Linked DNA regions of Homo sapiens. The protein of the gene in region 2 interacts with the protein of the main gene of each other region in a pairwise test. Each region holds a gene or a part of one and is shown on either strand. Other genes may lie near its edges.

Evidence for each region.
Region 1: the proteins of TMX2 (region 2) and STX3 interact in binary tests that used the Homo sapiens proteins (3 or more experiments, as listed by UniProt).
Region 3: the proteins of TMX2 (region 2) and DERL1 interact in binary tests that used the Homo sapiens proteins (3 or more experiments, as listed by UniProt).
Region 4: the proteins of TMX2 (region 2) and MGST3 interact in binary tests that used the Homo sapiens proteins (3 or more experiments, as listed by UniProt).
Region 5: the proteins of TMX2 (region 2) and THSD7B interact in binary tests that used the Homo sapiens proteins (3 or more experiments, as listed by UniProt).
Region 6: the proteins of TMX2 (region 2) and INSIG2 interact in binary tests that used the Homo sapiens proteins (3 or more experiments, as listed by UniProt).
Region 7: the proteins of TMX2 (region 2) and RUSF1 interact in binary tests that used the Homo sapiens proteins (3 or more experiments, as listed by UniProt).

The regions. Positions count from the first base shown.
Region 1 is NC_000011.10:59,793,376-59,796,875, forward strand, and holds part of STX3 (syntaxin-3), read left to right. Parts: intron 1-4; coding exon 5-139; intron 140-1,996; coding exon 1,997-2,107; intron 2,108-2,226; coding exon of another isoform or gene 2,227-2,337; intron 2,338-3,500. UniProt on the Homo sapiens protein: Potentially involved in docking of synaptic vesicles at presynaptic active zones. Apical receptor involved in membrane fusion of apical vesicles.
Region 2 is NC_000011.10:57,715,593-57,719,092, reverse strand, and holds part of TMX2 (thioredoxin-related transmembrane protein 2 isoform 1 precursor), read right to left. Parts: intron 1,245-3,500; exon of another isoform or gene 527-1,244; intron 1-526.
Region 3 is NC_000008.11:123,028,803-123,032,302, forward strand, and holds part of DERL1 (derlin-1), read right to left. Parts: intron 1,955-3,500; exon of another isoform or gene 1,915-1,954; coding exon 1,803-1,914; exon of another isoform or gene 1,428-1,802; intron 1-1,427. UniProt on the Homo sapiens protein: Functional component of endoplasmic reticulum-associated degradation (ERAD) for misfolded lumenal proteins. Forms homotetramers which encircle a large channel traversing the endoplasmic reticulum (ER) membrane.
Region 4 is NC_000001.11:165,629,974-165,634,033, reverse strand, and holds the start of MGST3 (glutathione S-transferase 3, mitochondrial), read right to left. Parts: upstream 2,801-4,060; 5' UTR 2,741-2,800; intron 1,804-2,740; exon of another isoform or gene 1,795-1,803; coding exon of another isoform or gene 1,760-1,794; intron 1-1,759. UniProt on the Homo sapiens protein: Displays both glutathione S-transferase and glutathione peroxidase activities toward oxyeicosanoids, as part of cellular detoxification as well as synthesis of bioactive metabolites.
Region 5 is NC_000002.12:137,055,545-137,059,044, reverse strand, and holds part of THSD7B (thrombospondin type-1 domain-containing protein 7B precursor), read right to left. Parts: intron 2,626-3,500; coding exon 1,815-2,625; intron 1-1,814.
Region 6 is NC_000002.12:118,098,471-118,101,970, reverse strand, and holds part of INSIG2 (insulin-induced gene 2 protein), read right to left. Parts: intron 1-3,500. UniProt on the Homo sapiens protein: Oxysterol-binding protein that mediates feedback control of cholesterol synthesis by controlling both endoplasmic reticulum to Golgi transport of SCAP and degradation of HMGCR.
Region 7 is NC_000016.10:31,491,392-31,494,891, forward strand, and holds part of RUSF1 (RUS family member 1), read right to left. Parts: intron 2,546-3,500; coding exon 2,475-2,545; intron 2,397-2,474; coding exon 2,212-2,396; intron 2,134-2,211; coding exon 2,076-2,133; intron 1,658-2,075; coding exon 1,587-1,657; intron 950-1,586; coding exon 806-949; intron 696-805; coding exon 618-695; intron 1-617.

The DNA.
Region 1 (3,500 bases), 2.1 Mb from region 2:
GTAGATCATTGACTCACAGATTTCCAAGCAAGCCCTCAGTGAGATTGAGGGACGACACAAGGACATTGTGAGGCTGGAGAGCAGCATCAAGGAGCTTCACGACATGTTTATGGACATCGCCATGCTGGTGGAGAATCAGGTAAGTGGCAGTGAGTCCCAGCGTGGGGAGGGAGGAGAGGAAAGCTCAGGGTCTACTGAGAACAGGGAGAAAGGGAATACTGGAAGCCAGTGAGGTAGGGTGGGAGAACCATTGGGAATTTGCATAAAGGAGAAACAGAATCCCATGGGAAAGTGTGCATTCAAATTGAATGTTGACACTTTGGGTGATCTTAACCTTGTCATTCTTGCCTGTCCCTTTGGCCTTGCAGTCGTTGCTAGTTGATACAGGGTTTGATGTGTTCTGTCAAGTACCCAGTTTTCCTGGATTTTTGATTTTTTTTTTTTTTTTAAGATGGAGTATTGCTCTGTTGCACAGGCTGGAGTGCAGTGGCGTGATCACAGCTCACTGCAGCTTGACCTCCCAGGATCAAGCAATCCTCCCAGGATTTGTCTTTTTTTCTTTCTTAAAAATCAGAGATCCGGGCTCCTAATGGTGACGTTTTAAAACAGCCTCCTGATATGGACTAGTTCACTGATGACATTGAAAATGTGATCTTTTCTCTAGTTCACAGGGAAGACTCAGGTTTAACATAAATTTTTATTTTTTTCCATTTTTTTTCTGTTTGTATTTTTTTTTAATTTTGGCACCTTTTGCTAAGGCACAGAGCAGACAACAACATGAATGAAGGAGTAGCAAAATAGCATTGACAGAAAGACTCGAAACACTCGTGGTGCTAGTTTGACAGCTTACTTTGTCCCAGGCATGCTTGCTCGGGATAGAATTCTGGATTGCCTGCATAGGGCGCTAGTTTCGCATAGTTAGATGGTTCCTAGTTCTTATGGGACAGTTAAGTGTGCCACAGGGTCATGGTGCTGTGCACTGTTGCCATGAACTTCCAGCTGCTCTGACACTTGGGATAGGAGAGAAAATTGCTTCCATAGTAGGCAGACTGCACAACCTAGTTGAAGCTCGAGCACAGCTTGACTAGTTTTTGACATTGGTTCCCTGCCGAGGGCCTGGATGCTTTCCCCCCATTCCCTACTGGCCTCTGAGACCATTTCTCAAGTCCCTCCATCCCACCTCTTCTTTTCCCCCACACTGCCTTGCCGAGGAACTGGCTTGAGATTCAAGTGGTGGTAAGTGCCTTGTTCTGTTTACAGACTGCCATAAAGTGATAGAGTTGGGTTGGGTAGTTGAGGAGAATTCCTAAAATGCCTAAGATTAATTGGAATGATCAAACTTCCCTGTCAGGAAGTGATTGCTAGGAAATGGTTGGGAAGCTTATCAAGAGACCACTGTCTGGAAGGGAAAATATAACCAAATAGCTTGGGTAAACCCAATGTCTGTCAGTTAAAGGGCCTGGAAATAACTTAGAGAAAGCAAATGTTCCCCACCTCAGATAGTTATTGAGCACCTACTGTGTGCCAGGCACTCTTCTGCAGTTAGTGAATATACTCAATTCAGGCTGAATGATGTTGATTCAGGTCTGAATGACCAGGAAGAGGCCAGCATCCTAGTGATGTCCTAATAACAATGAGATATCCTTATTTTGGTTCCTCTCCATGTGCTTAAGTGTAAAAAAAATAACAAAGGTTGTCTGGGGATATCTCAGAGTATATTTATAGGTAGTTACTAGGTATCTAGATAGTATGTTCTGGATGCCTGGTGGAGTGCTGGTCACAGAGAAGTAGTAAAATTCACTGAATGTTTCTTGAACAAGTGACTGCCACCCCACCACCAAGGACTGTGAATGGGTGTCCTATGGAAGGCCATGCATCAAGGTTTGTGGATGCTCTTCTTGCCACTGAAGATTGTAAGAAAGAGAATCCCTTCCCCGCATTGGCTAGGACTGACCTGAGACGTTTACTTGGTGTGATCAGAGTCTGTTCTTTGCAGGGTGAGATGTTAGATAACATAGAGTTGAATGTCATGCACACAGTGGACCACGTGGAGAAGGCACGAGATGAAACGAAAAAAGCTGTGAAATACCAGAGTCAGGCCCGGAAGGTGAGACTCTCCTGTGGCCTTCAGAGAAGAGAGTCCATTTTGTTTGCTGTGTCTCGCTCTTTCTCTTCCCTCTCCCTGTCTCTGTTTCTGCTGCCACCACCTCTTGCATCTGGGGAAAGGGATCCATGATTGACCGTATTGAGAACAACATGGACCAGTCAGTGGGCTTTGTGGAGCGGGCCGTGGCAGATACCAAAAAGGCTGTCAAGTATCAGAGTGAAGCCCGGAGGGTGAGCACCTTCATCTCAACTGTCCTTCGTCTCAGCTGTCTTACTAGTATCTCTTCTCCCTGGCCACCCCTACCTGTGTTCTTGAGCCCATGCCTCCCTCCCTGTCGTAGCCTCATCAACCCCTCCCTCAGCTTTTCCTAGAGACAAGCTGCCTGCCCTTCCTTCCCAGGTGTGCCTTGCATGGATCTGGCTCACAAGCTATCTCCCCAAAAACCCACACTTGAAAGGCAGTTCTGTAGGATGGATGCATGGCCCAGGTGGTGCTGCTAATCTTCTCCTGGACTTAGCTCATGAGGCTTTCAGATGTTACACTTGACTCCTCTGTTCAGAAACCTTCTCTTCATTGTCTTCCACTCCAGGCGCCCAAGCTCCGCCTCCCTTCTCTTTTTCTCTACCTTGTACCTAGCTCATGCTAACTGCTATCTATACATTATGTCATATCTGATGGAGCACCTGTTATTTCTACTTTATAAATGAGACAGTTGAGGGTCAGGGGCTCAGTAACTGGCTTCAGGCCACCTAGTAAGTAGAGGCACTGGGATTCAAGTTCAGATCCCAATCATTCTGTTTCTACCACACCACTGTATTTGCCCACCCTCTGGTGCCCCTGCCGCTTAAGGACTTCTAGGCTTCTGTGCTCACGACTGTGGTTATCCAGCTCTGGTGGCGTCTGCTTTTTAGACTTCTCTCCTTTGACTGGTTCTCTTGGGCTCTGATATTGTTGTTGTTTAGTTCTTTGTTTTTCATCCAACTTTACCTATTGCTTATGCAGGGATTTAGGGGACTGGGAAGTTATTTTACATGGTGAATCCAGGCTGGGTGGCATTTTCTGATATCCAGGCAGTGTACTGGGTCTGACAGGTAGGAGTATGGGCAAAAGTAGGAAATTAGAACTCTATCAAAAATGCCTTTACATTCCCTCTTAAAATGGAAAAAATCAGTCAGTGACTTTTTATCTTGGCCAACTGCTCCTTAGAGACCCCACGATAGTGGCTCTGATTCTATCTGTCCACATATACAGAACTGCAGTGTGAGCTGAGAGCTGAGAGAGGCCCCATATTTCCCTCTGCTGGCATTCCTAGCCTAGAAGTAATTTAAGAAATTTAAACTGTCCTAGGCTGGGTGTGGTGGTTCACACCTATAATCCCAGAACTTTGGGAGGC
Region 2 (3,500 bases):
CTGCACTCCAGCCTGGGTGACAGTGAGACTCTGTCTCAAAAAAAAAAAAAAAAAAAAAATATATATATATATGGCCTGAATATCAGCTTTTAGTTAAGCCAACTTCTGACCAGAAAGCTCTTTTTAAAAATCCTTTGTGGCTGGGCGCGGTGGCTCACACCTGTAATCCCAGCACTTTGGGAGGCCAAGGCGGGCGGATCATGAGGTCAGGAGTTAAGAGACAAGCCAGGCCAACATGGTGAAACCCCGTCTCTACTAAAAATACAAAATTTAGCCAGACGTGGTGGCAGGCACCTGTAGTCCCAGCTTCTCGGGAGGCTGAGGCAGGAGAATTACTTGAACCCAGGAGACGGAGGTTGCAGTGAGCCAAGATCACACCACTGAACTCCAGCCTGGGCAACAGAGTGAGACTCCATCTCAAAAAAAAAAAAAAAAAAAAGAGGGGGGGTTATTTCAGAATAAATGAATGGAGGAAAACAATGATATAGATAAAACTAAACAGATATAAAAAGTTGGGCAAAGAGGCTTTGCTGCCACCACCAGGAGCCCTGTACTATCAGCCATGGTCAACCCCGTGTTCTTTGACATCACCGTGGATGGTGAGCCCCTGGGCCGCATCTCCTTCGAGCTGTTTGCAGACAAGGTTCCAAAGACAACAGAAAACTTTCGTGCTCTGAGCACTGGACAAAAAGGATTTGGTTGTAAGAGTTCCTGCTTTCACAGAATTATTCCAGGGTTTATGTATCAGGTGGTGACTTCACACGCCATAATGGCACTGGTGGCAAGTCCATCTATGGGGAGAAATTTGATGATGAGAACTTCATCCTAAAGCATACAGGTCCTGGCACCTTGTCCATGGCAATTGCTGGACCCAACACAAAAGGTTCCCAGCTTTTCATCTACACTGCCAAGAGTGAGTGGTTGGATGGCAAGCATGTGGTCTTTGGCAAGGTGAAAGAAGGCATGAATATTGCAGAGGCCATGGAGCGCTTTGGGTCCAGGAATGGCAAGACCAGCAAGAAGATCACCATTGCTGACTGTGGATAAGTCTAGTAAGTTTGACTTGTTTTGTCTTCACCACCAGACCATTCCTTCTGTGCTCTCCTCTCAGGAGAGCACCCCTCTACCCCATTTGCTCGCAGTATCCTAGAATCTTTGTGCTCTCACTGCAGTTCCCTTTGGGTTCCGTGTTTTCCTTGTTCCCTTACATGCCTAGCTGGATTGCAGTTAAGTTTATGATTATGAAATAAAAACTAAATAACAACAACAATAAAAAGCTAGGGAAAGAAAATAAAGAATGAAAACAAATTCTGGCCTCTGCCTCTGCCTCTGCCTCTCCCTCTCCCCTCTCCCCTCTCCCCTCTCCCCTCTCCCTCTCGGTCTCCCTCTCCCTCTCTTTCCACGGTCTCCCTCTGATGCCGAGCCGAAGCTGGACTGTACTGCTGCCATCTCGGCTCACTGCAACCTCCCTGCCTGATTCTCCTGCCTCAGCCCACCGAGTGCCTGCGATTGCAGGCAAGCGCCACCACGCCTGACTGGTTTTCGTACTTTTTTGGTGGAGACGGGGTTTCGCTGTGTTGGCCGGGCTGGTCTCCAGCTCCTAACCGCGAGTGATCCGCCAGCCTTGGCCTCCCGAGGTGCCGGGATTGCAGACGGAGTCTGGTTCACTCAGTGCTCAATGGTGCCCAGGCTGGAGTGCAGTGGCGTGATCTCAGCTCGCTACAACCTCCATCTCCCAGCCGCCTGCCTTGGCCTCCCAAAGTGCCGAGATTGCAGCCTCTGCCCGGCCGCCACCCTGTCTGGGAAGTGAGGAGCGTCTCTGCCTGGCCGCCCATCGTCTGGGACGTGAAGAGCCCCTCTGCCTGGCTGCCCAGTCTGGAAAGTGAGGAGCGTCTCTGCCCGGCCGCCATCCCATCTAGGAAGTGAGGAGCGCCTCTTCCCAGCAGCCATCCCATCTGGGAAGTGAGGAGCGTCTCTGCCCGGCCGCCCATCGTCTGAGATGTGGGGAGCGCCTCTGCCCCGCCGCCCCGTCCGGGATGTGAGGAGCGCCTCTGCCCGGCCGCGACCCCGTCTGGGAGGTGAGGAGTGTCTCTGCCCAGCCGCCCCGTCTGAGAAGTGAGGAGACCCTCCGCCCAGCATCCGCCCCATCTGAGAAGTGAGGAGCCCCTCTGCCCGGCACCAACCCCGTCTGGGAAATGAGGAGCGTCTCCGCCCGGCAGCCGCCCCGTCCAGGAGGGAGGTGGGGGGGGTCAGCCCCCCGCCCGGCCAGCCGCCCCGTCCGGGAGGTGAGGGGCGCCTCTGCCCAGCCGCCCCTACTGGGAAGTGAGGAGCCCCTCTGCCTGGCCAGCCACCCCGTCCGGGAGGGAGGTGGGGGAGTCAGCCCCCCACCCGGCCTGCCGCCCCGTCCGGGAGGGAGGTGGGGGGGTCAGCCCCCCGCTCGGCCAGCCGCCCCGTCCGGGAGGGAGGTGGGGGGGTCAGCCCCCCACCCGGCCAGCCGCCCCGTCCGGGAGGGAGGTGGGGTCAGCCCCCCGCCCGGCCAGCCGCCCCGTCCGGGAGGTGAGGGGCGCCTCTGCCCGGCCGCCCCTACTGGGAAGTGAGGAGCCCCTCAGCCCGGCCAGCCGCCCCGTCCGGGAGGGAGGTGGGGGGGTCAGCCCCCCGCCCGGCCAGCCGCCCCGTCCGGGAGGGAGGTGGGGGGGTCAGCCCCTCGCCCGGCCAGCCGCCCCGTCCGGGAGGGAGGTGTGGGGGTCAGCCCCCCGCCCGGCCAGCCGCCCCGTCCGGGAGGGAGGTGGGGGGGTCAGCCCCACATCCGGGAGGGAGGTGGGGGGGGGTCAGCCCCCCGCCCGGCCATCCGCCCCGTCCAGGAGGGAGGTGGGAGGGTCAGCCCCCCGCCCGGCCAGCCGCCCGGTCCGGGAGGTGAGGGGCGCCTCTGCCCGGCCACCCCTACTAGGAAGTGAGGAGCCCCTCTGCCCAGCCACCACCCCGTCTGGGAGGTGTACCCAACAGCTCATTGAGAACGGGCCGGGATGACAATGGCGGTTTTGTGGAATAGAAAGGGGGGAAAGGTGGGGAAAAGATTGAAAAATCGGATGGTTGCCGTGTCTGTGTAGAAAGAAGTAGACACGGGAAACTTTTCATTTTGTTCTGTACTAAGATAAATTCTTCTGCCTTGGGATCCTGTTGATCGGTGACCTTACCCCCAACCCTGTGCTCTCTGAAACATGTGCTGTGTCCACTCAGGGTTAAATGGATTAAGGGCGGTGCAAGATGTGCTTTGTTAAACAGATGCTTGAAGGCAGCATGCTCGTTAAGAATCATCACCACTCCCTAATCTCAAGTACCCAGGGACACAAACACTGCGGAAGGCGGCAGGGTCCTCTGCCTAGGAAAACCAGAGACCTTTGTTCACTTGTTTATCTGCCAACCTTCCCTCCACTATTGTCCTATGACCCTGCCAAGTCCCCCTCTGCGAGAAACACCCAAGAATGATCAATAAAAGAAAA
Region 3 (3,500 bases), on a different chromosome or scaffold from region 2:
ACGCCTGTAATCCCAGCACTTTGGGAGGTCAAGGTGGGCAAATCTCTTGAGCCCAGGAGTTCAAGACCAGGCTGGGCAACATGGTGAAACCCCATCTCTACAAAAAATACAAAAGTCAGCCAGGTGTGGCGGTTTAACACCCATCCTTGTAGCTACTAGGGAGGCTAAGGTGGGAAGATCACTTGAACCCCGGCAGTCAAGGCTGCAGGGAGCCATGACTGTGCCACTATACTCCAGTCTGGGTGACAGAGCAAGACCCTGTCTCAAAAAAAAAAAAAATTACTCTAACAAATTAATGCTCAATTAAGTTATACCAGAAAGGCAGACTGCTAAGCACTCAGTATCATTATGGGTCCAACTGGAACAAAGGAGAATAAAAATCACATATTCTGGTAGATTTAAAGATCAAACCCCTAATATGGTGGTGAGAGGCCTAGTTGTCAGTTTCATTTCTGCCAAGTTACTTTACTTCCTTGAATCTCCTATTCATCTTTTGGTAAAACTCAGGAAATAAACTAGGTTCCTCCCAATAGTAATATAATAGTCTATGACCTTACACTTTGTATTAATACAATTTCTTTCTTTTTAAAAAGAACCTAAAAGCAAATGCCAATTTAAGGAAAAATGTTACTTGACATCAAATACCCATCCTACTATTTCCCTGCAGTGATGAGACTGATTCGCAATTCTCAACCATATGAGCACTGACTTACATACACTTAAGGGTAGTTCAGAGTTCTCTATCCTGAGGTAACAGCCAGCAAGTTTATAAAGTCTCTGAAGTCAGTCAGCCTTTTCAAAGTCATTTAAATTTAACAAAATTATATCCATATTGTAACACAGTGTATTGATGTATTGTTTCTTTAGTATAAGTGACTCAGACAGCATATAAGGTATTGTAGGAAATAAATGACAATTCAGTAAGACACTTTTACGAAAAGATTTTTCGAACTTATCCATAATATTACATAGGTTGGCTGGGCACGTTGACTCACACCTGTAATCCCAGCACTTTGGGAGGCTGAGGCAGACAGATCACTTGAGGTCAGGAGTTTGAGACCAGCCTGGCCAACAGGGTAAAACCCCATCTCTACTAAAAATATAAAAATTAGCCGGGTATGGTGGCAGGTGTCTGTAATCTCAGCTACTCAGGAGGCTGAGGCATGAGAATTGCTTGAACCCGAGAGGCAGAGGCTACAGTGAACTGAGATGGCACCACTGCACTCCAGCCTGGGCAACGGAGCAAGATTGTCTCAAAAAATAAATAAATAAATAAAATAAAATATTACATTGGTACTCATACCTGATAAACTACCATATATTATTAAATCTTGGCTATATACTGTATTTTAGAGTTGAGTTTTTCAATTAGAGAATAAATCTAGGCTTTTAATTACATAAATTGATGTTTTTCAACCCCAATCTAGGAGACATATATACTCCAGCCCAATTCTGCACTGAAGGACAAGGACTGCTGCAAAAGAAATGAGTGAGACCCTCAAAATAAATGAAAGGCACACAGCTCAGCCACTAAGGAGATGGACAAGCCATGTCAACCTCTGATCTGCTACTTTTTGCATCTATAAAATGGTAACACTGCTACTTATACCTCAGGATGTTGTGAGGATTAAAAATTGAGTAAGCTAAGTGCCTGGTGCAGTCCTGGCACAGTCACTAAGCATTTACTATCTTTATGCAGTTTCTTTTTGTAATGCTAACTGCCCTCCAAATTCCTCCAAAGTAAACACATGGATTAGTAAATGAGAAAGAAACAATGCTTAAAACAACTATGGGTAACATACCTGTTTCAAGTCGCGTAGAATACTGATATAAGAAATATAAATTGACCAAATAAAGAAATCCAGTTCCTGGACCCACAGGGAAATAAAAGGTGGCAGTGATTGGCCTCCAAATCTGTCCAGATCAAAATAAACACAGCTGTTAGTTTCTGTAAGCCTGGTTATTTCTTTCCCTTCTAACTAAACAAAATTAACAAAGCATCCTCCTCAATGAGAGGTGTGAAAGTGATCCTACCAACACAACTCAAGAAAACAACTGAAGAAAAGTGTTCACACCAAATACAATCACATCACTTTGCAAATCAATGGAATAAAACGACATCATAAAATAAGCAACAAATATTTCTAAACAAGTTGAAACAAAATCAATACTATATGAGTATATGGTTAGTCTTTGCTGAGATCAGGCATACAATTAAGCCTACATCAAAAAATGAATTACAAAGGCTTAATTTCCAACAGTACAGTAATGCCTCTATTTAGGGAAAGAATATTCTGGAATGACAAACCTTGTCCAAAAATGCCACATTCAAAGGCAGAAGTAAAACAACAATTTTTTATTCAAACCAATGCACTAAATAGGCAATAGGGGCACTTTTTCTTTAAAAACATTTCCCTGAAAAAACAAACAAAACATAAGAAGGGTCTAAAGTAACAAGCAGGCCAGGTTCGGTGGCTCATGCCTGTAATCCCAGCACTTTAGGAAGCTGAGGCAGGCAGATCACCTGAGGTCAAAAGTTCAAGACCAGCCAGGCCAACATGGTGAAACCCTGTCTCCAATAAAATTACAAAAATTAGCCAGGTGAGGTGGCGGGGGCCTGTAATCTCAGCTACTCGGGAGGCTGAGGCAGGAGAATCGCTTGAACCCAGGAGGCGGAGGTTGCAGTAAGCCAAGATCGCGCCACTACACTCCAGCCTGGGTGACGAGCGAAACTCCGTCTCAAAAAATTAAATTTAATTTAATTAAAATAAATTAAATAATAAAGTAACAAGTAAGCCTCATTCCCAACCTCCAGTCTCCCAGTTCCCCAACAACAGCTGATCAGTGTCTTGTATTTCCTCTAAGAAATACATGTTACTATTACTCATTCTTCTTTATCCTACTCTATACGGCACTGTTTTATACCTTGGTTCATTCCCTACAAAATATTTTAATTGGCTTCATAGTATTCCTTGTATGTGAATGTCTAAACTTTTGTTTAAACTGTTACAATGCCACAATGAATATTCTTGTATATCCTCTTTATATGTGCATATACAGAATAAGTTCCTGTCAATAAATCTGCTAGAGCAACAGACATAACCATTTATTTTGGTAGATACTGCCAAATGCCTACAAAAATGTTTGCTCAATTTATACTTCCTCCTAAAAAGTAGATGAATCCTGTCTTCTCTCCATACTCTCACCATTTCATGTATTATATATTCACCAATCTGAAAACTAATTTTTATTTGCATTATGAGAAGTCAAGCACCTTTTCACGTTTTAAAAACCTGAGCATTTCCTTTATTCATTTGTTTTTCTGGATTTACATTTTTTTTTTCCCCCCCGAGATAGGATCTTGCTCTGATGCCCAGGCTGGAGTGCAGTGGCATGATCCTAGCTCACTACAACCTCCACCTCCTGGACTCAGGTGATTCTCCCACCTCAGCCTCCCAAGTAGCTGGGACTACCAGCATGCACCACCACACCTGGCTAAT
Region 4 (4,060 bases), on a different chromosome or scaffold from region 2:
AAAAAAAAACTTTGGGAAAGTTCCAAACAAGGAATGTTTTCTTTTTAATGAGTGTCAGCACTGCAGTATGACAAAAGAAGTAGAGATTACGAGAAGGAAAAAACTTCCTCCAATCTTTCAGGCATATAGGTTTGCAAGGAGCAAAGTAACACAGAAACTGGCACTTCATTTATATATCATGTCATATAGCTGTCCCTTAACTGGCATTACATAGGAACCAAGAGTCATTGAGAAACTAAGCTATGACTTCCAGAAGGAAAAAAAAAAATCTCGAATGAGTCACATTGACACCACTTGGTAATTTTCTATTACAAGAAATGCAGGCAGACTGTAGTTAATTTGTAGCAGCTGCTGAATGCCCGTTAGGGTACCAACCACCCCAAAGGAAGGAACCACCTAGGCTGCTGGCTTTTGCCTGAAACAGGGGTTCGACCTTTTCATGCCTGTCTACACTTAGAATGAAGCTGTGGTACAACCGCTCCCATTGCTTGCTCATTTATTTATAAAATAAAATATCACTTACTTATTTTTAAAGGGTGGAATAAAAAAATAAAAAAATTAATTTTTGCTTTAAAAAAATAAAAAAAAATGAAGGGTGGAAATAAGGCAACTAAATCGTAGAACGCAAGTTCCAGTTAATGAACAGATCAACTCTAGAAATAACTCAGAAGGTAACAGCAAGATCTATGATTCTAAAGGATAAAATCCTTAAAGGCATTTGCAAATGCATTTGAAAGATAGTACAATTTTCCTGTTGCCTAATTACAGCGTTTCTCCTCAGAGGCAGGTAGGCAGGTAGGTACTGTAAGAGCGAGTGACAGAAACTCAGGAATTTTATTTTACATAGCGATAATCTACTTGCTGCTAACTGCTAAATTTTTTGTTCAGGAAGATGGTAAGCTTACAGTAGCATTAATAAATTGAGCTGCAAAAACCGTAGCAGTATATTCTTCGAAACAAATATTGCTTTAAAATGCTAGATGGTTCATGGTCAATTGTGGTCGGTAATGGTGTTCTAAATATAGATTCAGAAGATTTAAGTATAAACATAGGGCACAATATGTTTAAATACAGATAGATGTGCAGTAGGCACTGAATTGCTTTTGACAGATTGATTTGACATCCACCTCATTCCAGACTGCTCCAGGGGCTTTTTAGCATTTCTCTGAATAGTGGGTAAAGCCCTTCTTTCCTGTATGTTCCTTCTCGGTGCTAATCTCCAGGCGAGGAGGATCTCTTCCAGGATTGTGTCTTTTCAGAACTCTAAGCCAACAGGAAGAAATCTAAATAAAGCGGAAGGCTGCCCTTCTCCAGTTTTGTTCCTTAATCTAAGGAGGCCCCTGTAGCGCAGTTTCTATAGTTGGCGACAGTCTCCCTGCAGATTTATATATAGTAACATTGGTTAAAAAAAATCACTTGACAAAGTTTTCTATTTCCGTAACATTGTGTCAGGAGGGAAGCTTAACGGAAAGTCTTCCCAGGGATGAAAGTATTTGTTTCTATTTTATATGTTAGTTTTAACTCCTTAAATTCATCTCCTATGAGAATAAACATTCTTGATCTGACTCAATGTGCTCTCTGAATTCACTGAAATAAAATATAGCCTGTAACTCTGACCAATAACCTGGGGTGCCTCCCAGAACTGCTGGCTCCAGGTGATCTACAGATTTCCCAAGAGAAGCGCTGCAGCTCCTACCCACCAGCAATCTAAAATCTGCAGCAATTCCGCAGGACCACACCTAGGCCCAACAGCACATACCTGCAGAGCCGGAAGCGCCTTCCCCTCCAGGGCATCTCCTGTCCCCAGGGAAGGAATTAAAGTTCTAACCCCTGCCTCTCCTTCTACCCATCCTAGTATCTGCTTTTCCTTTACCTCGTCTTCCACACTTACTTGCCCCCGACGCTATTATGTAGCTTGTAAACTCGTGACTCTCAAGGAAAGTATCAGCAGAAGCCACAACTTCGGGGAATGACTCACTAAGGAGTCTCCAGCGCCTTCCACCGCCCTGCAACTGCCCCACTACTGTAGCCCTACGGCTCCGTGCTGCCACCCCACATAAAGAAGGGGCATTTTCTGAAATCCAAGGAAGAACCTGAAGAGTCCCCCACCCGCCTAGAGGCGTCTCTTGCTCTAAGTCAGCGGTAGGAAATGACCACCTTCCCAGTACAAATGGACAAACGATTCTAAGAGGCAGGAGGAAAACAAACACAATTCCTTCAGAGGCTCTCCCGACCGTCCCTAGCAACACATCCCCACCGCAGCGGGTGCATTGCTCACAGGCCACTTCTGAAACCAGTGTTACTGATCAGGCCTGCACAACCACTCCCCCGGCAGTGTCCGGCTCGCCATCCTCTGCGCCGGAACAGCAGAGGGCAAGGTCGGGTGGTCTCCGGAAGGCAGAAAGGTGCCCCCAGACTGCAGAGCCCGGGGACAGCAGGAGAGGAAAGGAAGGAATGGAGGAAGGGTTGACCTTGAGAATTTTCCTGAGTTACACATAAATAGGTCGGGCCTCGCTTAGACGCTCCCAACCCACTCCACCAGGGAAAAGATGCAAGGCAAGGGGAGAGCAGAGAGGGTGGAAATTCAGATCGCTAATTTACTGATAAGGGTGGGGGGAGGTTAGAGACAGCGGGTCTCTATTCAGCTCGCATAGGCTGAAATATGGGAGTGCCCTGCGCAAAGGCTGAAGTGCCCCCGGCGGCCCGGTGCTCGTGGCTGCCCGCAGGTGCTAGCACTCACCTGGATCACCTTCGAACAGCTGGAGCAGAACAAAACTGCGCAGCGCGGTGTGGGTGCGGCGCCCTCGCCTGGGGCGGGGCTAGATGAGGCCAGAAGCAGGCCCCGCCCCAGCCGACCAGCGCGCGGCCACGCCCCCAAGGCGGGGCTCCTGGCGCTGGCGCGCGCTGTCTAAGTTGCCAACTCAGGGCCACTGGTTGGGAGGTGGAGGCCTAATTTTCTTCCTGCTCATGGTCGTCCAGCGATTTACTCCTCTCATTCTCAAAAACATATATCTACTCCCCCAGGTGCCTTCGTGGCCATCTTCCTAAACTGTCCCAGCCAGGTCATACCTCCCGGATTGGGTTTGCAGAACAGTGGGACGTGAATAATTTGTCCCCAGCAGAGCCACCGTAGCGGTTTTAGGCGCTCTGCTGTAAGGGCGAAGCACGGGCATGCAAGGCGCGTGCGCGAAAGTAGCCGCGCCTCAATCGATGTGTCCCTGAGGCGCGTAGCTGGGGCGTGGGCGGCGCTTGGTGTCCCAGGTTGCTACACTCCCGAAGTGAATGGATTTATCGCTGTTAGGGCCTTTTTGTTTAGGGCCTAACAAATATTGTTAGTTTTGCCGAGAGCTGGCGCCGAGCCCTGCCCTCGTGGTGGGCCGTACCCACGCCCCCTGAGCGCGGAGTCGCGTGGCTCCGGAGTTTTGTTTTTTTGAAAGGAGTCTCCCAATTGTCCGTGGAGTTTTTTTTGCGGCACATGGAGTCTCTGCCTTCGCGACCCAGACCTTTGATGTGAACACCTGCTCCCGTTACGCTCGGGTCCAGCGTCCGGGGCGGGGCTCGAGGCCGGGTGGAGGAGGGGTGGGGGCGGGGGTCTTGGTCTTGGGTGAGACCTGCAGATACGGTCGGGCTGAAGGAGTAGAACTGGCTTCTAAATGCCGGAAAATCCGAAGGAACTGACTGCAGAAGGCACGTTTCCAATTTTCGCGTGTTTTAAGTGCACCCTCCCGCCACCTCTCCTCTGGACATCCCTCATCCTTTTGAAGATTGCCACACCTGGGCCCCTCCTAGAGTCTCCTCTTTGGAGGATTCCTCACCTCCGAGAGAATGCTTAGGAACCCACCTGAATGATTCCAAGTTAAGGTGTGGAAAGGCAGAAATCTAGATTTTTGAAGGCTCTAGGTTATGTGTGTGTTTCTTTTTATTGGGTTGTCATATTTGCACATCTAGAGGTACTTTGAGAGCTCATTAAATCTTTACTGTTGCTGTTTCAGCAATTTCCAACCATTCTCATACTTTCTGTCATGTTGGGTTTCTGTCATGTTGGATGTAGAGAGGGCTT
Region 5 (3,500 bases), on a different chromosome or scaffold from region 2:
TAAATTTCTCATTTAAATTCCCAAACTATGGTATTTATTTTTATAACAGTTAGTCTTCGGCAATTCAAGCTGCTATAACAAAGTACCAGAAGCTGGATGGCTTAAAAAACAACAGAAATCTATTTCTCACAGTTCTAGAGGCTGGAAGTCTGAGACCAGGGTACCAGCATAGTCACATTCTGGTGGGTTCTCTCTTCTGGCTTGCAGACTGCTGACTTCACATTGTATCCTCAAATGGCAGAAAAAGAGTGAGAGGAAGCTCTCATGGCGCACTAATCCCATCTATGAGAACTGCATCATCACGACATAATTACCTCCCAAAGGCCCCATGCCTCCTAAAAACATTACACTCATGGTTAGAATTTCGATACATAAATTTGGGGAGGGGAACACAATTTGAACTGTGTTATGCACTCAATGTTTGTGTATGTAACTATGAAATGTTTGTTTATGAAACTATCACATGAATGCAAGATGTTAATAATAGGAAAAAACTATATGTTGGAGACAGGGAGTATACAGGAACTCAGTACTTTCACTCATTTTTTCTGAAAATTTAAAAATTGATCTGAAAAATCAAGTCTATTAAAAAAAGAAAAACACTGCAAAAATGCACAAACAAAATGAAAAGATTCTATGTAATGCTCACTTCAGCAATACAGTACGGAATATTAAGAAAACAATGTATTTACACAACCCCACACACATTCAAACAAATTGCATGAATCTTTTGCTTAATCTGGACTTCAAAGAAGTAGGCAATAAAAAGCTGCAAATCACTCTTCAGTGGACTTGCTAATTTCATATGGCACAAATCAGAATGAAGTATCAAGGATAAAATATACTCATTTGTGAAGTCAAATGGAAAAAAAAACAATCATCACATTACTTTGTTCATAAACAACAGTGGTAGTCTTCTGGGCATCTCCTGGTCAGCTGTGGATCCCAAGAAGGCAGCAACTGATGAGAATGATTAATTCTAAAGACAAGCATTATGTTGTTTGGTAATTTAAGTACTATTGAAAGGCATCTTAATTTGGAAGAAACTTAGTAATACACAAATGCTTCATTTAAGACCCTCTGAGGTAAAATTAAACAAATACTACTTTCAATATATTTCTGTGAGTTTATGTCATGATGTTTTAGACTACAATTTAAAATAAAACAAGCATAAATTTGAAACCTAAGCTGTTGCTTTAATAGTTTATTTCTTCTCCAGTACGTCATTCTAATTACTGCTTGCGCAAGTTAATACCTGTATCAAAATAACGCCAAAGAAAGCACTCTTGGAACAACTTTTCGGTATTATTGCTAGTATAAAAAATGTACAACACAGATGTCAAAGAATGTTGATAACAGTGGAAACAAAAGTAAACAAATAAAAACAAAAATAAAATTTTAAAGGACAAATGTTCTGAAAAACAAAAATATTTACATAATTCATATCCCACATTTGAAATTGAACTTGAATTTTTATCATTATGAGAAGCCCCTTAGTCTTCTATCACTGTTGTAATGGCAGATCTATTTTTATACTAGTTACTGTCTTGATAAAATGTGGAAATATATGACTTATCCTATATATATAATTGCATTACTAATCACACAAGAATGCTAGAACACTGCTTGGTCTAAACTATGCAATTTTGAAAACCTCCCAGTGAAATTAAAAATTTCTTACATGAAACTTCTAAAAACCTAAATTATAAACCTCGTTGCCATTTTCGCTTTGTAGAAAATCATAAAGAAGCTTTATAAAGTTGCACTATAAAATATTTTAGGTGAATCAAATTCAAGCATCAAAGGTCTCCTACCTTAACATAGCATTTTGTCCATCACTTCTTGTACACGAAACCTGCCGGGTTTGATAACCTATCTCTATTGCCCAAGACTTCGAATGATGATGTGCTTTGTAACTTTGATGTTTAAAGGTGACTCGCTCATTTGAATCAGAGTTAAAATCCAGAACAGTTCTTCCGCTTGGATTAATTTCTTTAAGATGAGGCAGTCTGCATTTACTCCATGGTCCAACCTTAAGGCTAAATGTATATTCCTCTTCCCCAAGAGGACAGGAAATGGGAGCATCACAGGCTCTTGACTCAGTCAGATTTGGACATTGCAAACCACCAAAGAGAGGGGGAGCTATGACCGCGCGAGTTCTATGCTGCAATTTCTTCCCACATCCCTTGCTACAGTTGGACCATGGTAAGAACTCAGATACTACACAATCCCGGGGACAAGGAATGAGGCAAGCCTGTTCTGTAGGAGGCTGAAGGGCAAAGTGTTCGCATATTTCATTTGCAACCACAGTTCGGTTCAGCTTCTGAATGCAGCGCACCATCCGGTGCTGCAGTCCATGCTGAGCCGTCACACACTCTGCAGTCCGAGGCTTGACTTCACCGCGAGCGTAAGGAACAAGCACACAGTGGTGCCAGTCAGAAACCTCCCACTGAAAGAGGTCACTGTGCCAGTCACAAACTCGGAAACAACTTCTTTCCTTTGGAGGCCTGTTGCTCTCACCACAGTTAGACAGGTGACTTGTCCACCCGTCAACATGAAAACACCACACTGCCCGACTCTGGACTCCTCCGGGACCACAGTCTCCTGTACACCTTCCCCACGGACCTACAGGCAGAAAAACAAGGATGTTAATTACTCAGAGATTACATTCAGCAATTCACAGGTAAGTAGAAGTCAATTAACACACTTTCCAACACAAGCAGTATGAAATTAGGAATTTTGGTGGAACAGAGACAACATAATTTAGTGGTTCAGAATGTGGACACTCTTGTTGAAATAAGCATTCCATCAGTAATGTAAACTTGGATGAATTATTTCAACTTTCTAAGCCTTAGAAAGTTCCTCACCTATATAAGGTAGAAGATAATAAAAGCACCGACTTGTAGAATTGCTCTGAAGATAAATGATACAATGTGTCAAGTAGACAATACAAATTTAATAAATGATTGGTACCATTATAACTACTACGTTCCAAAGCCTATACATCTAACTCAATATTAATACTTTCCACTGAGGTGGTGTTTCATTCAAAAGAAAAGCCCTAAAGCCAGGATTTTAATAAAGTAGAATTTTTCATATTTCCAGTCTTTCAGCTCAAACTCTAAGAAGCTCAGAAGAGAGATATGTTTAACACCCTAAGTTGCCAAAGTATCCTATTTTCATTTTCAAAATAATTGTCCTCAGTTTTGGTTAGTACTTGCAGAGAGAATTGCATGAAAATAACAATGGGGTGCAGGGGAAAGGTAAGGTAATAAGAGAAGCAGCAGCACTGAATTGTCTGTGGAAATTCTGCCCCTAGAATCCTTGAAGTGTACTCATTTTGATTTCTGATGGGTACTGATCCAGGTACAGTTTCCAACATTAGCTTGTAATATGCCAGATCTTTTAATTAACTAATTCATTTGTGTAGGTAAGAGTCCAAGAAATGGACAGATGAGGGAGCTGCCCATTGACGTTTATCATATTTTTTGCATCTCATC
Region 6 (3,500 bases), on a different chromosome or scaffold from region 2:
GACCAATGGTGCAGCATTTGAAAAAGGCTGTGTGACCACCCTTCTATCTCGAGATGAGATGCTGCAATACTGTATGCATTTTCTAGTCCACAACTCTTTTGAGTTAGGCATGTGCTGAGTATAGATGGCTCACAGAACATCAAGAGATTAAGAACATATCTCGGCAATGCAGAGCTCCAATAACTATTAGTAAATCTAGAAGTTTCACACTATATTCCTATTTAAAAATCTGCTCCAAAATCCTGACAAGATTAACTGACAGGATTTTAAAATTTCTATACAAATAAAATGGCAACAAGCATCCCTAACAGTTGAAATGTAGTTAAACGAATATCACCTCTTTTTTTCTCAAGGGGTCATAAAACTAACAGCTCATTTGTCACCCCCATCCCCCCACCATATATATCCTCCCTTTGCCTGTTGCTGAGTAAAGTCAACTAAGAGCAGACATTCCAAGTCAATTTTCCTGAGCAACTGATGCCTAGGTAAAGAATTATTACATAGAGAATACTGACATGTATGTGCAAAGGTATAAATAAGTAAAATCGACTATATTTTTATGCATGTGATGTCAGACTTGCAAGTGAGAGACAACTGAGGAGAGAAAGCAAAAACACAAAAAGAAATTTAAACTGCCACACTGCCAACCCTGGGATTTGCCAATAAAAATCAAATCCATTGAGTATGCATGGTTCTCAGTTGCTCACTGAGAGGGAGAATTCGAAGAAGCTTGTCACTTCCCATTAAATGTCTTCTTTCTTTCCTTTAAATAAAGGCATGGCAGAGTCTGATAGCAATATATACAACACTGTGAGGTTCCACTGTTTGAGAGCTCAACAGAGTATGTCTGGGCCTCTTTTCCTCTTCTTGTACTTTTTTTTAAAAAAAACAAGAAAGACTGTTAAAATCATGCCTGTGTAAAATCATATGCAAACACAATCCTGCTTATAAATCAAATGGTTCTCTGATGCAAAAATCACATTTCTTGTGATACCTTTAAGTTATTTCCCAGTGACTAGTTACAGTCTACCAAAGCTAAACACTAAAGAAGTTTGTAAAATATCAGTAGTAAGTCATCACTTTTTTATGGGAATGTGCTTAAATGCAGGGAGGCACTAAAAGGAACACAGTTAAAGTCAGACATTTTGTAAGAAAACAGGAACTGAATAAACGAAAACACTCCATGAGGTATACTTCGACGCAAAACTATAAGATAATATTTTCCTTCAACAAATACTTAAGCCCTGACAATATGTCTGGTTCTTGGTATTTGCTGGAGATTTAAAAAGGTAAGGCCAGGCGTGGTGGCTCACACCTGTAATCCCAGCACTTTGAGAGGCCGAGGCAGGCGAATCGCGAGGTCAGGAGTTTGAGACCAGCCCGGCCAACATGGTGAAAACCTGTCTCCACTAAAAATACAAAAAAATAGCTGGACGTAGTGGTGGGCGCCTGTAATCCCAGCTACTCGGAAGGCTGAGGCAGGAGAATCGCTTGAAGCTGGGAGGTGGAGGTTGCAGTAAGCCGAGATGGCGCCACTGCACTCCAGCCCAGGTGACGGAGTGAGACTCCGTCTCAAAAAAAAAAAAAAAAAAAAAAAGGCAAAAGAGTAAGATACGATTCCAATTGCAAAGTGACCACAGAAACAATTAAATACAATCCTGCATTAAGGGCAGCTGACAGGACAGAGGGGTCCCAGGCTTCTCCTTGCCTGTGCTAGGGGAAGGCAAGGTGCTGGGCTGTCAGAAAAGCTTCACGGAAAGAGGTGACCCTTGAGGCAGGAGCATTCAGCAGTAAATGGCGCAGAAATAGTGCTCTCATTAAAGGGAGGTGGCTGAGGACATTCATGGAAAACTGGAAACTGCTGGTGTTAAGAGGAAGCTGTAAGCTTCAGACACAAAGGGAGCTGCAGGGTCCAGAAAGACTCTGAAGAAGAAAAAAGCAGTCAAGGGCCATATTATAAAGACTTTACCCTGCAGACAATGGGCAATCAGGAAAACAATGTCATCACTGTTGTACCAGAGAGAGGCCATCTTCTTAGCAGTGAGGGTACCATACAAGGGGGCTGAGAAAAGGGTGGGTGCAAAACTAGAGGCCGGCAAAGACTAAAGACTCCAAGCACAGCCATTGAGGGATGGACCAAGAAAGAGACAGAGGAAAGATGTAAGACTTGGAAACTGGATGTAGAACGGGAGAGAAAGCAAGGAATCTTACAAGGCTCTACAGGAATAGGGCAAGGGACTGCACAGCTAAACAGGAAAGATTTTTCTTTTCTTTTTACATTAGATATTATTTTCATACGTTTGGACACAACCAGGCTACTTGTGATTTTTGAGGCAACTTCTCTACTTATTTTATCCACACGAGTTGTCTTTTTCTATTTATTCTTTAGAAAGATTTCTTTGTGGCCCTCAATAATGCTGAAAAGATTTCTAATTCCAATTCTGGTGCATGGCACACATAAGGAAGTTAACTTGTAACATCAGCATTATCAAACTAAAAATATGGAATTAAGAAAAAAAAGTCATCAAAATTAGTTTACCAAAGTTCTCTATTAGTTGTCCCACCAGAACCACCACTAGCAAATTTTCCAGGATTGTGCTATAGAGAAAGGTGGCAAATAACAAGGAGCACTTTCTACACACAGAAGGTGGTGATTCTGGAGCCCCTCCAAAAGGTGGCTGCTCTATCTATGAATGTTAGTTGAACAGGAAAATCAAAGGATGATTATCAGTTTTTCTGACTTAAGATGGTAAGACCCTAGCGAGGTCTTGAAAATCCACGCCAACACATATACACAAAAACATATGCATATTACATACACACACAAACTCAAACACACTATGTTTCTTAAATCATTTACTTCTTTTCCCATGATACTTTCCCTAAAATAATGATGCAGGGGATGGCAGAGCAGAGATTTTGAGAGAATCCATTTTCCATCTCTGGCAACTTGGACAAATCTGATATCTTTCACTCTCATCTACTAAACACCATGACTTAACTAACAAAATTGGTAGCAGAATTGGCTGGAATCTAGATTTCCTAATGTCTCTCTACTTTCTTTTGCCCAAGTACCTTATGGTACAAACTGCTTTCAGAAGAAATACTTAAGCAAGAAATGTAAATGCAAATTCCCCAAATGAGGTTAAGTTTGTAAGTGTGACAAACCTAGTGGCTGGGAACAGGAAGGAAAGTAGTGGCTGAACTGTGGTATTAGCATTTGAAATTTTCCTTCCTAAAATGTAAGTTTATGGCAAAAGTGCTGACATTAAAGGGGCAGAAGGACAAGACAGCAGGTGCAGCCCTGTTACTCTTCATAGTGGAGGTACAATGAAACCTCAGTTAAGTTCTCCTGCCCCAGCCCAAATGCACAACACACGCCAGGGAATTCCATCTAGGTCTGGCACCCAGTCTGGAGGCTTGAAAAGTGGCATCCTGAGTAGGGGGAAAAGTGTGAGTAGCTTCCTTTTCCCTTCCCCAGCATGTGACATGTGGACCCA
Region 7 (3,500 bases), on a different chromosome or scaffold from region 2:
TCACTGCAACCTCTGCCTCCTAGGCTCAAGTGATCCTCCCATCTCAGCCTCCTGACAGTCCCACAGGCGTGCATCACCATGCACAGCTAATTTTTTTATATTTTTGGTAGAGACAGGGTTTCACCATGTTGCCCAGGCTGGCCTTGAACTCCTGAGCTCAAGTATCTGCCCGCCTTGGCCTCCCAAAGTGCTGGGATTACAGGTGTGAGCCACTGTGCCCGACAGTCTTTTTTTTTTTTTTTTTTTTGAGAGAGGGTCTTGCTCTGTCACCCAGGCTGGTACAATCATGGCTCACTGTAGCCTCGACCTCCCCCAGTTCAGGTGATCCTCCCACCTCAGCCTCCTGAGTAGCTGCAACCACAAGAGCAGAACCACACCTGGCTAATTTTTGTGTTTTTTTTGTACAGACAAGGATTTGCCATGTTGCCCAGGCAGGGTCTCAAGCAATCTGCCCACTTAGGCCTCCCAAGGCACTAGAATCATAGGTGTGAGCCTCTGCACCAGGCCCAAGAACCCAAGTCTTTTACCTTTCAGGTGAAAGGGTGGGAGTGGGGGAAGGCGGGGCCCCCAGGGACAAGGCTTCAGGGGCCAAGCAGCCATGGGCTGAGGGATGTTACCTTTCAAGAACTTTGGGAACAGCATGTCCAACACTTCGTGTGTCTCCTTGACGACGACCCAGCTCTCTTTCTTAGGACCTGGGTACGGGGGTGCAGAACCAGAAGCTCTGTGTCCTCCAGCAGGACAGAGTTTGTCCTCTCTCCTCCCCACCCTGAGGCATCAGCAGTCTAAATCTTGAGGCACTTACCTGCCCGCACCCGGTTCCTCAGCTCCTCCAGCTCTGCTGGAAGGGGTCCATCTCCCTGCAGGGCCCCAAGCATCAGCCCATGTGTGGCGGCCCTTAGGATGGTCTTGGGGCCTGCCTTCTGGTTCAGAACTACCTGTACCTGGTCTGGAGGGACCCAGAGACAGACTGGTATCAGGGAAGGGCCACCTCCCAAACCCCTTCTATCCCATCACCCTGCTTCCCCTGTCTGCCCCAAGACCTTGGCCTGGCACGGAAGGCTAGCACCTCACCCTTTCCTTTCCAATTCATCTCCTGTTGCTCCCCAATGTTCGGGCCAAACTGACCAATTTCCAAATACAATTTCCCAGCCGCTCACTGGGCTGGGTCTATTTTGCATTTCTTTAATGGCTAGTGAGAATAAGCACCTTTTCACACTCAACCAGCGGACCAGCACACTCAAGGACTTGTTTACCCAAGAGGCAACCCAGGATGGAGAGAAGGGTGGTTTCCCACGGACAGCAAAGGTCATAGCCTTCCTAAGAGTGCTGCAATGTAGCTTTGCAGTCACATTATTTGATCCTCATAAAAACACCGCAAGGAATAAGGCAGGTACTGTTAGCTCTGTTTTACAAAGCGGTGACATGAATTTCACTGGGGCATTGCAGCTGTAATTTGAACGGTCTAGAGCAACCCCCAGAACAGGCAGCCTCCAAACTGCCCAGAGCTCGGGGCCCTAGGTTGGAGGAATGAGAGGCTGACCTGGGAGGGTGCGTCTTAGGCTGGGAGAATGAGGCACACTCACTTTGTGACTGGTCCCAGCAGAGGAGGTAGGATTCTTGGTGCCCCTCAACCAGCTGCTGCAGCTCAAAGACACTGTGGGGGAGAGGACAGTGCAGTGGGGGTGGAGGACAGCAAAGGCAGGCATGCCCAACCAGCCACTGAACAGCCACCCAGTGAACTGAAATGATCCAGGCTTCACTCAGGTCCCCTCGCTTCCTCTCTCCCTCAGCCATTACCCATACACACCAAATCCATCCTTTCTTCCTGTATCCAGTCATCCAACTTCCCCATCTACCCATCCTTCCTTCACCCATCAAGCACATCTCTTACATCTGCTTCATGTTATACACCCTTTCCTTCCTCACACACCCACACCAACCCCATGTCTGTTCAGCAGCAATGAAGAACCCAGGACAGAGAGGTGGGGCCTTGCCAGGGAGGCCAGTGTGTAATCGGAGTGAGGGGAGTGTGGGTGGCGGTGGTGACGAGCGGGAGACGCTAGGCCACTCACCTGGAGACCAAGCGGTGTAAGGGGACCCCCAGGGATAGAGACGGAGCTGGCCAGAAACCTGTGGGAAGCTGGGGTCAGGATGCCTAGGCAGTGGGAGAGGTTGAGACACAGGACCCGAGACCAGGGGCAGGGTCACCTGTCCACAGCGGCTCCATGCGATTGGCTGCAGTTGGGTCGAGTACCTCTCCCCTCTGAAGGTAGTGCTTCAGGACCAGCCGGAGCCGGCCTTCGTTCAAGGTCTCCATGACCAGGGCTCGGACCGCGCGGTAGTTGGCGTAGATGTGGAGGGCAGTGAGGAAGAAGAAACATCCAAGGCTGAAGCTGGGGTGAGAGAGTGAGGTAGCTGAAGTGGGCAGAGGCCCAGCTGGGGTTCTCCTGCCCACCCTGCTTCCGGCTTACCCAGGGCAACCTGACACCAGAGGGAGCATCAGGAGGCTGACCAAGAGCCCCGCCAGGTTCACCAGCGTCTCCTGGAAAATGGCAGAGGGAGAAGGAGTTGGAAGGTGCCCCTCCAGGCCAGACTGAGTGCCCGAGTGCCTTTCACCTCATCCTCCCTGCTCCACAACCTCCCAGGGCTCCTTACTGCAATGTGGGTAAATTTTTAGTTTTTGGTGGGTGAAATGTCATTTAAAAGATGCCAGCTCGAGGTGGCTCACACCTGTAGTACCAGCACTTTGGGAGGCTGAGGTGGGCAGATCACTTGAGTCCAGGAGCTTGAGACCAGCTTGGGCAACATAGTGGGACCCTATTTCTACAAAAAAATTAAAAATTTGGTGGGGCATAGTGGCTCGCGCCTGTAATCCTAGCAATCTGGGAGGCCGAGGTGGGCAGATTCCCTGAGCTCAGGAGTTCAAGACCAGCTTCGGCAACACGGTGAGACCCATTGCATTTTTGTAAAAATACAAAAAACTAGCCAGGTATGGTGGCGCGTGCCTCTACTCCCAGCTACTCAGGAGGCTGAACTGCTTGAGCCTGGGAGGTGGAGGTTGCAGTGAGCTGAGATCACGCCACTTCACTCCAGCCTGGGCAACAGAGCAAGACTGTCTCCAAAAAAGAAAAAAAAAAAAATTAAGCCATGATTGCACCACTGTACTCCAGCCTGGGAGACACAGTGATACCCTGTCTAAATACATATGTGTATCAGTTGCTTTTTTGCCCAGGTAGGTGCCCTCGGAATACCCTTGAACACATCTTGTCTTGCAAGTCACCAGAACAGACCCACACTCAGGCACTCACTAATGTGTACTTTTTTTTTTTTTTAAAGAGCGAGGGTCTCGCTCTGTCACCCAGGCTGGAGTGCAGTGGTGCAATCATAACTCACAGCCACCTCAAACTCCTGAGCTCAAGTGATCCTACCACCACGCCTCTGCTAATTATTACTGCATTTTTTGGTAAAGATGGGTCTTGCTATATTGCCCAGGCTGA